2 linked regions of the Homo sapiens genome follow. The protein of the gene in region 1 interacts with the protein of each later gene in a pairwise test. Each region holds a gene or a part of one and is shown in the gene's direction. Other genes may lie near its edges.

Region 1 (5,237 bases):
TTCACAGCCATCTCTTCCTGTACTCTATACCCTGTCTAGCCAGGCTACACATGAAGCTGTTCATCTCCTTTGCAGGATGTTGGTCTTTGATCCAGTAAGTAGTGTTTTTTTTTATATATTTTTAATGAATTACAAATACATGTGTTCGAGAGAAACATTGTGGTTTTGAATAGATTGGCAATGTAAATAATTACTTTTCAGAATATAAACTTCAATCCCCAGTATCATGTGTATCATGCACGCTCATCACACAGAAGTTTGATTATTAACACATAAGAGTCTAAGGGAAGAGATAAGGAGCTGGATCTTATTTAACTCTTATTTCTTATTTATCTCATTATTTGTAAAAGGAGTTTGACACCAAGTTAAGTCAAGACAAAATGATTTTTTGTTTTGAGACAAGGTCTTGCTCTGTCACCCAGGCTGGAGTGCAGAGGTGTGATCTCAGCTCACTGTACCCTCAACCTCCCAGGCCCAAGCAATCCTCCTACCCGAGCCCCCTGAGTATCTGGGACTACAAGCATGCTCAGCTAATTTCTAAATATTTTGTAGAGAAGAGGTCTCACTATATTGCCCAGGCTGGTTTGAACTCCTGGAGTCAAGTGATCCTTTTGCCTCAGCCCCGCAAAGTGCTGGGATTACAGATGTGAGCCACCGCGCCCGGCCAGGACACAAAGTTTTTTAAGGTTATTTGAAAAAAAAATCTGACCATTATATTGCATAAGGAAATGTTTGCTCTGTGTTGTTGAGATGGAAGCTTTTCCCAATACCCTTTCTGGACTTGACTCTTCTGGAACATACTACAAATTATACTGTAAGTTCAGCTCTTCATTTATTCATTCATCCAAAGAATATTTATTATTCACATCTATGCCAATAACTATTGTCAAAGAAGACTTAAAAATGGAAGCATTTAGTAAAGAAAATTTAACTTGCCAAGAATACAAAGTCACCAAATACGAAAAATACCAGATATTTAAAAGATAAAACAACCACAAAATTACCAAAGTTATTAAGTTTACATTGGTCCATTTGTAGTGAGAAAGCTGCAACTTTCTCAGAAGATATCAAATTCACAAAGCTTCAGACATCAGCACAGCAAAGATTAGGGATAAAAATAATTCTGTTAAGGAGTTCAGGTTTGTGAGAAACAGTCAAGGTTTTTTTATTTGGGGGACCAGAACCAATTAGGGTGACCCAAATTATTTTTGTAATGTCTCAGGGTACAATTTAGATTGCTTATGTGTTTATTTTGGTGTTTTTTGCTGTTGTTTTCTTTTTTGTTTTTTTACTGTGGTGTATTAGTCTGTTTTTACACTGCTGATAAAGACATACCCAAGACTGGGCAATTTACAAAAGAAAGAGGTTTAATTGGACTTAAACCTTAAAGTTCCACATGGCTGGGGAAGCCTCACAATCATGGCGGGAGGTGAGGAGGAGCAAGTCATGTCTATATGGATGGCAGCAGGCAAAGAGAGAGAGCTTGTGCAGGGAAACACCCCTTTTTAATCTGGTCAGATCTCATGAGACTTATTCACTATCACGAGAACAGCACAGGAAAGACCTGCCCCCATCATTCAGTTACCTCCTAGGTCCCTCCCGTAGCATGTGGGAATTCAAGATGAGATTTGGGTGGGGACACAGCCAAACCATACCATGTGGTATGTGAAGTGCTTAGTGATACTATAAGCCTGACAAAGTGGCAGTTCTTGCTCCCACAGTCTCTCTTTGTGATCAAGTTCCCACTATTAAGGACAATTTCAATCATATAACTTGCTTTATTGAGCTAGTGATTTACTATCATTTGATATTTTGTGTTATTTGGTAAGTTTATCTACATAACTAACAGAAGATGTTGATCAATATGTTAAAAAACAAACTCCTTTTATATGGTTAACAAAACTAGAGCTGTGTGAAATTCAGGCTTCAGAGGTAATTTCTGTCTGACCATAGAGGATTTTATAAAGGGTCTAGGATTGAAATTTATGTGTTAGAAATATTTTATTCTCTATTTCTATTTAGATTTGGATCCAAGAACCATGTAACTCACCTCTACCAGGTGTGCATACACTGTTTAGAGCTGTAAGGCATCCTCTTTCTCTGAGATCCCATGTTTTGTTTGGTTTGGTTTGGTTTGGTTTGGTGTTTTTGAGACAGAGTCTCGCTCTGTTGCCCAGGCTGGAGTGCAGCAGCGCAATCTCAGCTCACTGCACCTCCACCTCCCGGGTTCAAGCGATTCTCCTGCCTCAGCCTCCTGAGTAGCTGGGATTACAGGCACGTGCCACCACACCCGGCTAATTTTATATTTTTAGTAGAGATGGGGTTTCACCATGTTGGTCAGGCTGGTCTCAAACTCCTGACCTCATGATCCACCTGCCTTGGCCTCCCAAAATGCTGGGATTACAGGCATGAGCCACCGCACCCAGCCTAGAGATCCCATGTTTATTAATGCTCCCGATCTGCCAGGAAGGTAGTGTTTACAGTCTTTAAGGCTGGAACTTCCTAAGCCATAGAGCAAGTAGTAAGCCCATTTTTCTGGGAGGTCTTTTGTACACAAGTTCTACATGTGACATGTAGTCCTTATTCCTTAACAGTGGGATTATCACACTTAATTAAATGAAATTTGTGGTGTAGTTGTAGTTATAAAGATTTATCTAAGGAGAAAGATTTATCTGGTAAGGAAGAGTATATATTCTTTTGGAACCTATGTAAGTAACTACATAGTCATTTAAAAATAAAGAAATTAGGCTGAGCATAGGGCACAGTGGCTCACACTTGTAATCCCAGCACTTTAGGAGGCTGAGGCAGGAGAATCTCCTGAGCCCAGGAGCTTAAGACCAGCCTGGGCAACTTAGGGATTACAAAATTAAAAATTTTTTAAATTAGCTGGGCGTGGTAGCACATGCCTGTAGTTCCAGCTACTCCAGAAGCTGAGGTGGGAGGATGGCTTGAACCCAGGAGGTTAAGGCCAAGGCCACAGTGAGCCATGAGCTCACCATTGTACTCCATCCTGGCAAGGGAGACAGAGGGAAACCCTGTCTCAAAAAGAAAGAAATTAATTTATTTAATGCACACTACATAATAATTAACCATTTTTATCACTGTGTTATAAACAAAGCCGACAAGTTTGTTACTTTGTTACAGAACTATTTTTAAATTAGCCTGATGCTTTATTAGCTTTTGATCTATATTAAGGATTTTTTTTATTTCCAGTTCTGAGAGTTCAATGAGAACAAGAAACCATTTAAAGAGAGGTTTGTTCTGATTTTAACCTGTTAAATTGAAAGTCAGCAATACATTAAGAAAGAAATGAGGTGTGTTTGTGTGTCAGGGTCTCACTGTGTGACCCAGGCTGGAATGCAGTGGCACGATCTCCGCTCACCACAACCTCCACCTCCTGGGTTCAAGAGATTCTCCTGCCTCAGCCTCCTGAATAGCTGGGATTACAGATGTGCGCCACCACACCCAGCTAATATATTTTTATATTTTTGGTAGAAACAGGATTTCACCGTGTTGACAAAGCTGGTCTCGAACTCCTGACCCACCTTGGCCTCCCAAAGTGCTGGGATTACAGGCGTGAGCCACTTTTTAAATATCCATGAAGAACAGACCATTGACCATAATTAAATCAGTGTATTTATTTAGTCCATTTAGTCTGAGGTAACTAGTTATTCTTGTTTTGTTGATCTTGGGTTAAGCAGTCTACTGCCATCACATGTCTGCTCCTGAACTGAAATGATGACTCAATTACTTGATTCAGTCTAAGAGCAGGTGTCTGTGGTGAGATACACATACACAGACAAACACAGACACACACACACACACACACACACACACACACGCTGAACATCCCTAATTTGGAACTTTGAGTGCCAACATGACACCACAAATGACCTGACCTCAGTGACAGGTCACCATCAAAAAGCAGGCATACAACACACAGTTTGTTCAGTATCCCCAAGGGAAAAAAGACCCCCAGCCTCCTTCAGCTGTGATTCTATCTTCCCCAAGCATATCCAGATTCCCCCATGCAAATGTGCCCACAAAGGGTAATAAAATGGCACATCTGCAGGCCAGATGCACCAATGACAGGTTCCCCACAATGTCCCACATGCTGCCAAGACCTATAGGCATTATTTACTGTATTTTTTGCCTATTCTGTGCTCTTTGGAGTAAAAATATTGTTGAAAATGTCAAAAAGTCCTGCAGATAACCCAGCAGGTAACTGATTTTTTTAAAAAGAGGAAGCATTTCTGTTTATAGCACAGAATGCCAAGCTATTGGAGAAACTGCACAGTGGTGTAAGTGTGAAGCATCTTACAGACAAGTATGTTGTTGGAATGATCACTGTATGTAACCTAAAGGAACAGAAGGATAAACCGTTGAAGTTCTGTCCTGAAACTCATGAACAGAAGTTAAAGAAAAATAGAAGGAAAGGGAAGCCAAGGGCTCAGAGAGGCCTGGGATCAGGCACATACACTGTCAGCCTACTTGTTCCTTTGGGTTCAAACAGTGGAACACTATCCCAGTGGAATCTCTAGGAATCGCTATCAAAGGACTCAGACTTTTTTAGAAAAAAAGAAAAGGAAAAAGTTTACTTGCTAAGAATGCAGGGAAGTCAGACTTCAAAAGAGCTAGATCACCAAATACAAAACATAAACTTATTGAAAGGAAAAAAAAACAAGGTTATCAAGTATACGTTTGCCTGTTCCTGGTAGATAAACACCCGCTTTCTTCTGTGATTATCTTATCTTGAAAGGTCATGACATGCCTTTTTACATCAGCATAGCAAAAATCAGTGATAAAAGTGTTTTTAGGGAATCCGGGCTTATGAGAAACATTTCATTATTATTTGGGAACGAGAACAGTTGTTTTTGGTTTATCTGAGAACAAAAGTGGTTTTCATTTTTAAATTGTGTAATGTGAAGAAGTGCTTGGTCATATTGGAATCAGGGCAAAGTGTGTGTTCTTGTTTTTGTTCTACTGTGTACTAGTGAGTTCATCCTTAAATCTTTAAAATTTACTTTCAGTAATACACGTATGTCTACTGAGCTAAAAGAAGGGACAATTTCTTTAATTTTTTCATGGAGTAATGTTAAAAGTTTAGATTTTCAGGCAAACTTAAAACTCATGCATTCAGTATTCTGATCTAAAGTGACAGAAAATGACTAGGTGCAGTAGCTCATGCCTGCAGTCCCAGCACTTCAGGAGGCCAAGACTGGAGGCCACAAATTCAA
Region 2 (5,237 bases), on another chromosome or scaffold:
ATGATCTTGGCTCACTGCAAACTCCACCTCCCGGGTTCAAGCGGTACTCCTGCCTCAGCCTCCCAAGTAGCTGGGACTACAGGTGCACGCTACCACGCCCAGCTAATTTTTGTATTTTTAGTAGAGACGGGGTTTCACCATGTTGGCCAGGATGGTCTCCATCTCTTGACATCATTATCCACCCGCCTCGGCCTCCCAAAGTGCTGGGATTACAGGTGTGAGCTACCGCGCCCGGCCAATACCAGAGAGTTTTTAAGAAGTAGCCCTTAGACGAGCAATCAAAGAGAAAGCTTTCAGAGTGATATGACAGCGTTTTGTCTCTGCTGAGTCTCCAATAACTTTGAAAGCTTGTATCCCTAGGCCATAGCTTAGCCTTGAGTTCAGGAAGTCCATCCTTGGAAAGAAGAAAACCAGCCAGTTGATGAAAACAGGACAGGCAGATTCTAATCTGTGCTGTGTGTTTAAAATATATACAGTCGTGCACCATATAATGACATTTTGGTCAGTGATGGACCATATACAAAATGGTGGTCCCACATTATGGGACAGATTATTACAGTATTTTTACTGTCCCAATGTTCTATGATTAGATACACAAATACTTAACCAATGTGTTAACAGTTGCCTACAGTGTTCAGTATAGTAACACACTGTACAGGTGGGTAGCCTAGGAGCAATAGGCTCTACCATATGGCCTAAGATGTGTAGTAGCCACACATCTAGGTTTATTAAGTACACTCTGTGATCTTCACATAGCAACCAAGTCACCTAACAATGCACTTCTCAGAATGTATCTCCATTGTTAAGTGATTTATGACTGTACTTTCTCTTTTCCTCTATTTATTCCCTAATCCAGCCCCTTCTCCGTGTGTGAGGTCTTGATCTATGTCACATTTGGCTATAATGAAGCTATTCTTATGTCCCATCATATTGATTAAAATGAAATGCCACATACAGAGCACAGAACAAAGTTACTAACCACTGAGTAGAAGAACAGCTCTAACTGTAAACAGAAAGTAGCATTTTGAACATGGACTCATTTTAAGAAGAGAAAAATGGGAAAAGCACATCAAAACTTGATCTCTGGAGGTCAGGCGCAGTGGCTCATGCCTGTAATCCCAACACTTTGGGAGGCCAAGACGGGTGGATCATGAGGTCAGGAGATCGAGACCATCCTGGCTAACACGGTGAAAACCTGTCTCTACTAAAAATACAAAAAATTAGCCGGGTGTGGTGGTGGGCACCTGTAGTCCTAGCTACTTGGGAGGCTGAGGCGGGAGAATGGTGGGAACCCAGGAGGCGGAGCTTGCAGTGAGCCAAGATCGTGCCACTGCACTCCAGCCTGGTCGACAGAGCAAGACTCCATCTCAAAAAAAAAAAAAAAAACTTGGTGTGTGGTGCATTGTAGACTCAGCAATGGAAATAAACCAACCTGTATTTATTTCTTTATTTATTTTTTTAGATGCAGTCTCACTCTGTCACCCAGGCTGGAGTGCAGTGGTGTGATCTTGGCTCACTACAACCTCCACCTCCCTGGTTTAAGCAATTCTCCTGCCTCAGCCTCCCGAGTAGCTGGGGCTAGAGGCACGCATCACCATGCCTGGCTAATTTTTGTAATTTTAATAGAGACAGGATTTTGCCATGTTGGCCAGGCTGGTCTCAAACTCCTGTCCTCAAGTCACCCCCCTGCCTCGGCCTGCCAGAGTGCTGGGATTACAGGTGTGAGCCACTGCGCCTGGCCCCAAGCTGTATTTTTAGAGTGCATAAACTCAGTATGAATTAACCAGGATAAAAAAAACATAAAACTCTGGGAAAATAAAACCTAGCCCATGTAAGGAATTACTACATTGGTGGTGTTGCTCTTATTCAATTCAGGTTAAAAAAGAAGTCGGCGATGTTTCCATCCTAATCAACAATGCCGGAATCGTAACAGGCAAAAAGTTCCTTGACTGTCCAGATGAGCTTATGGAAAAGTCATTTGATGTGAATTTCAAAGCACATTTATGGGTAATAATTGTTTCTTCTCATCATAAATGTAAAATTATTCTGGCATTTGGAAGTATTTTCCTCTTGCTCTTTTACAATATTATTAGCCTCTAAGTAAAGCAGAGACTTCTCAGTTTTGGACTTGTCCTGTTCTACACAGTTGTCCTTTTCTGATGCCACTTAATCTACAGCCCCCAGGACCTCTGCTTAGGGAATTCTACAAGGACAGAACTGTCCTCATGGTCCTGCTACCATGTATTGATTAGCTGCAAATGTTAGGAAATACTCCAGGTGGCTCACATATTTTCCTTAAAACAGCTCGGTGAGATAAGGGATCATAGAACTTAAAAGATTTGCTCCAGGCTACATAGCGAGCAACTGCACTTAGACAGGACCAGGGTAGCTTTGTAATTTGCCTAAGCTGGGACACTTTTGGAAGTGAAATTCAGCATTATTAATGAGCAAGTGTTAATCAGGTCTGTTATGGGCAAACCAAAACCTATAGTCACCTTAGTTAGTACCCAACCAGAGAAATTAGAGGTTCCACTGGTAACCCAGGTTACCACCTGCTACCAGCGCTAAAAGCACAGTCCTGACTTCTAAAGCCACCCACTCAATTCCAGAAGTTGCATGTTTCTGGCCTTTGCTGAGACCAGCCATCTCAGGCCTCCCCACACTATGCATGCACCCTCTTGCTGCCTCTCCCAGCTTTTATTAAAAGTTGTATTTTTATTTTACTTTATCATTTTATTTTAATTTTTTGAGACAGAGTCTCATTCTGTCTCCCAGGCTGGAGTTCAGTGGTGTGATCTCAGCTCACTGCAACCTCCAACCTCCCGGATTCAAGCGATTCTCGTGCCTCAGCCACCTGAGTAGCTGGGATTACAGGTGCGCGCCACCACACCCAACTAATTTTTTGTGTTTTTAGTAGAGACAGGGTTTCACCACATTGGCCAAGCTGGTCTTGAACTCCTGGCCTCAAGTGTTCCGCCTGCCTTGGCCTCCCACAGTGCTGGGATCACAGGACTTTTGACCTGTTTGGTTCCAGCCCTGCTCGTAGCTCGTCATTCCTGGGCAAGGCTCTCTCTTGGGAGTCTTTGCTGGAGATTTCTGAGCTCCTCCTCCATTCTCCTCACACCTTTCCACCCAAGTCTTCTTTAGCAGCCTTCAAATGTAATTTGGAATTTGTAGATTTTCTGTCCCCTATTTCCACCAAAAATGTAATGGTGCTGGTGCTATTCTTGGTGTTTTGTAAAGTTTTCAGGAGAAAAATGGAAAGATTCAGAATTTAGTGGCTACCATGTTCCTACAAGAACTACTGCAAATGATTTATCTTGTCCCAAATGTCCCTCTCCTTGGTGCTTGCTTATACTCATATATAGTCAGAATGAAGATAAAGACCATGGTCCCTGGAAGTCTCCACTCCCATGGCTTTGTGTTCTTTTTCTTTTTTTTTTTTTTGAGATAGAGTATCACTTTGCCGCCAGGCTGGAGTGCAGTGGCGCGATCTCGGCTCACTGCAACCTCCACCTCCCGGGTTCAAGCAATTCTCCTACCTCAGCCTCCCAGGTATCTGGGACTATGGGCGCACGCCACCACACCCAGCTAATTTTTGTACTTTTAGTAGAGACAGGGTTTTGCCATGTTGGCCAGGCTGGTCTCCATCTCTTGACCTTGTGATCCGCCCGCCTCAGCCTCCCAAAGTGCTTGGATTACAGGTGTGAGCCACTGCGCTTGGCCTGGCTTTGTGTTCTTTTCCTACCTCTCTGTTTTTCCCCAGGTGCCTTCATGGTGTCTGTCTCTCTCTTTTCTTCTTTTCTTCTTCTTCCTCTTCCTCCTTCCTCCTCCTCCTCCTTCCTCCTCCTCCTTCCTCCTCCTCCTCCTTCCTCCTCCTCCTCCTTCCTCCTCCTCCTCCTTCCTCCTCCTCCTCCTTCCTCCTCCTCCTCCTTCCTCCTCCTCCTCCTTCCTCCTCCTCCTCCTTCCTCCTCCTCCTTCCTCCTCCTCCTCCTCCCTCCTCCTCCTCCTTCCTCCTCCTCCTCCTCCCTCCTCCTCCTCCTTCCTTCTCCTCCTCCTTCCTCCTCTTCCTCCTTCTTCTTCTTCCTCCAACTCCAACTCCTCCTCTACCTCCTCTTCCTCTTCCTCCTCTTCCTTCAGTGCTGGTGTTTCCCTGGCTCCTACCACTCCTCATGTCATCTCACTCCCTTTACTTCTTCTGGGCAAGTTCATGTACATTCTTTGAGCATCTGCACATTGCCAGGCACAAAGACAGTGACTTAACTGCTAGAGCGTCCAAGAGCTACCTGAAGGCTGGGCTCTCAAAGGCAGTGTCCCTACTGAGAAGTGTCCCAACTCATGGCAGACCCCAGAGTGTTTGCTGCACTGCTTCCTTTTGCTTTGTTTTGATTTCCCACCTCTCTCTACCTGTTAGTTTCTCTCTGAGACTTATTGCAATGCAGGCAAACAAGTGAGGTTTGGCCTTTGTAAGAGATCCCTTTTCTCACCTCCTTGTCTTTGGTGTGATTAGTTACTCCTTTGATGCAGAAGATGTCTTCCTTAAAAGCTCATTTCTGTCTCTTTTACCTTCTTTCTCCAGGCCCCCAATCAAGGGTGAAGGTGTTGGACAGAATACAGATGTGTCCTCTTTCTAATAGATATTCTGTTTTACGAAATGGAACAAAAATAAGAGATGAGTTTAAAACAAAGTGCTCTTTTAAAATTGAAGTCAACAGCCAGATGTCCTGTGAACAATGTTCAGGGAAAATTTGAAACTCAAAATCAAGCTAAGCAGAGAGAAGGCAATCTAAATCTAAAGCATCATGTTTGTGAGGTTTGGGGTTGTGGCTGCCACAACAAAGATTTACTCCTTCAATTCTTGTTTTAATATTGTGTCGTTAAAAGTCAAATATGAGCAAAAACATAAGTCTGAATAAATTATTTTAATAATACTGGAATTGCCATAAAAAACTGATTTAACAGGTTAAATAAGTTAAAATGATTACTTTCCAGATGTTTAAGTTTTTATATCCCCATACCTTCAGATATTTTACAGGCTGAAAAAAAAAGATTTTTTAATCACAATGAGTATATAAATATCTGAGAAAATTATACAATGTGGCATTAAACATTAAAAGTTTTCCTTTGTATTCTTAGACTTATAAAGCCTTTCTACCTGCTATGATTGCTAATGACCATGGACATTTGGTTTGCATTTCAAGTTCAGCTGGATTAAGTGGAGTAAATGGGCTGGCAGG

The links. Proteins that work in one complex are often made in the same cells at the same time.
Region 2: the proteins of NLK (region 1) and SDR16C5 interact in a two-hybrid assay, tested with the Homo sapiens proteins (one large-scale study listed by BioGRID and IntAct).

What each region holds. Positions count from the first base shown.
Region 1 is NC_000017.11:28,185,172-28,190,408, forward strand, and holds part of NLK (serine/threonine-protein kinase NLK), read left to right. Parts: intron 1-7; coding exon 8-94; intron 95-5,237. UniProt on the Homo sapiens protein: Serine/threonine-protein kinase that regulates a number of transcription factors with key roles in cell fate determination. Positive effector of the non-canonical Wnt signaling pathway, acting downstream of WNT5A, MAP3K7/TAK1 and HIPK2.
Region 2 is NC_000008.11:56,308,927-56,314,163, reverse strand, and holds part of SDR16C5 (epidermal retinol dehydrogenase 2), read left to right. Parts: intron 1-1,875; coding exon 1,876-2,007; intron 2,008-5,136; coding exon 5,137-5,236; intron 5,237-5,237. UniProt on the Homo sapiens protein: Oxidoreductase with strong preference for NAD. Active in both the oxidative and reductive directions. Oxidizes all-trans-retinol in all-trans-retinaldehyde.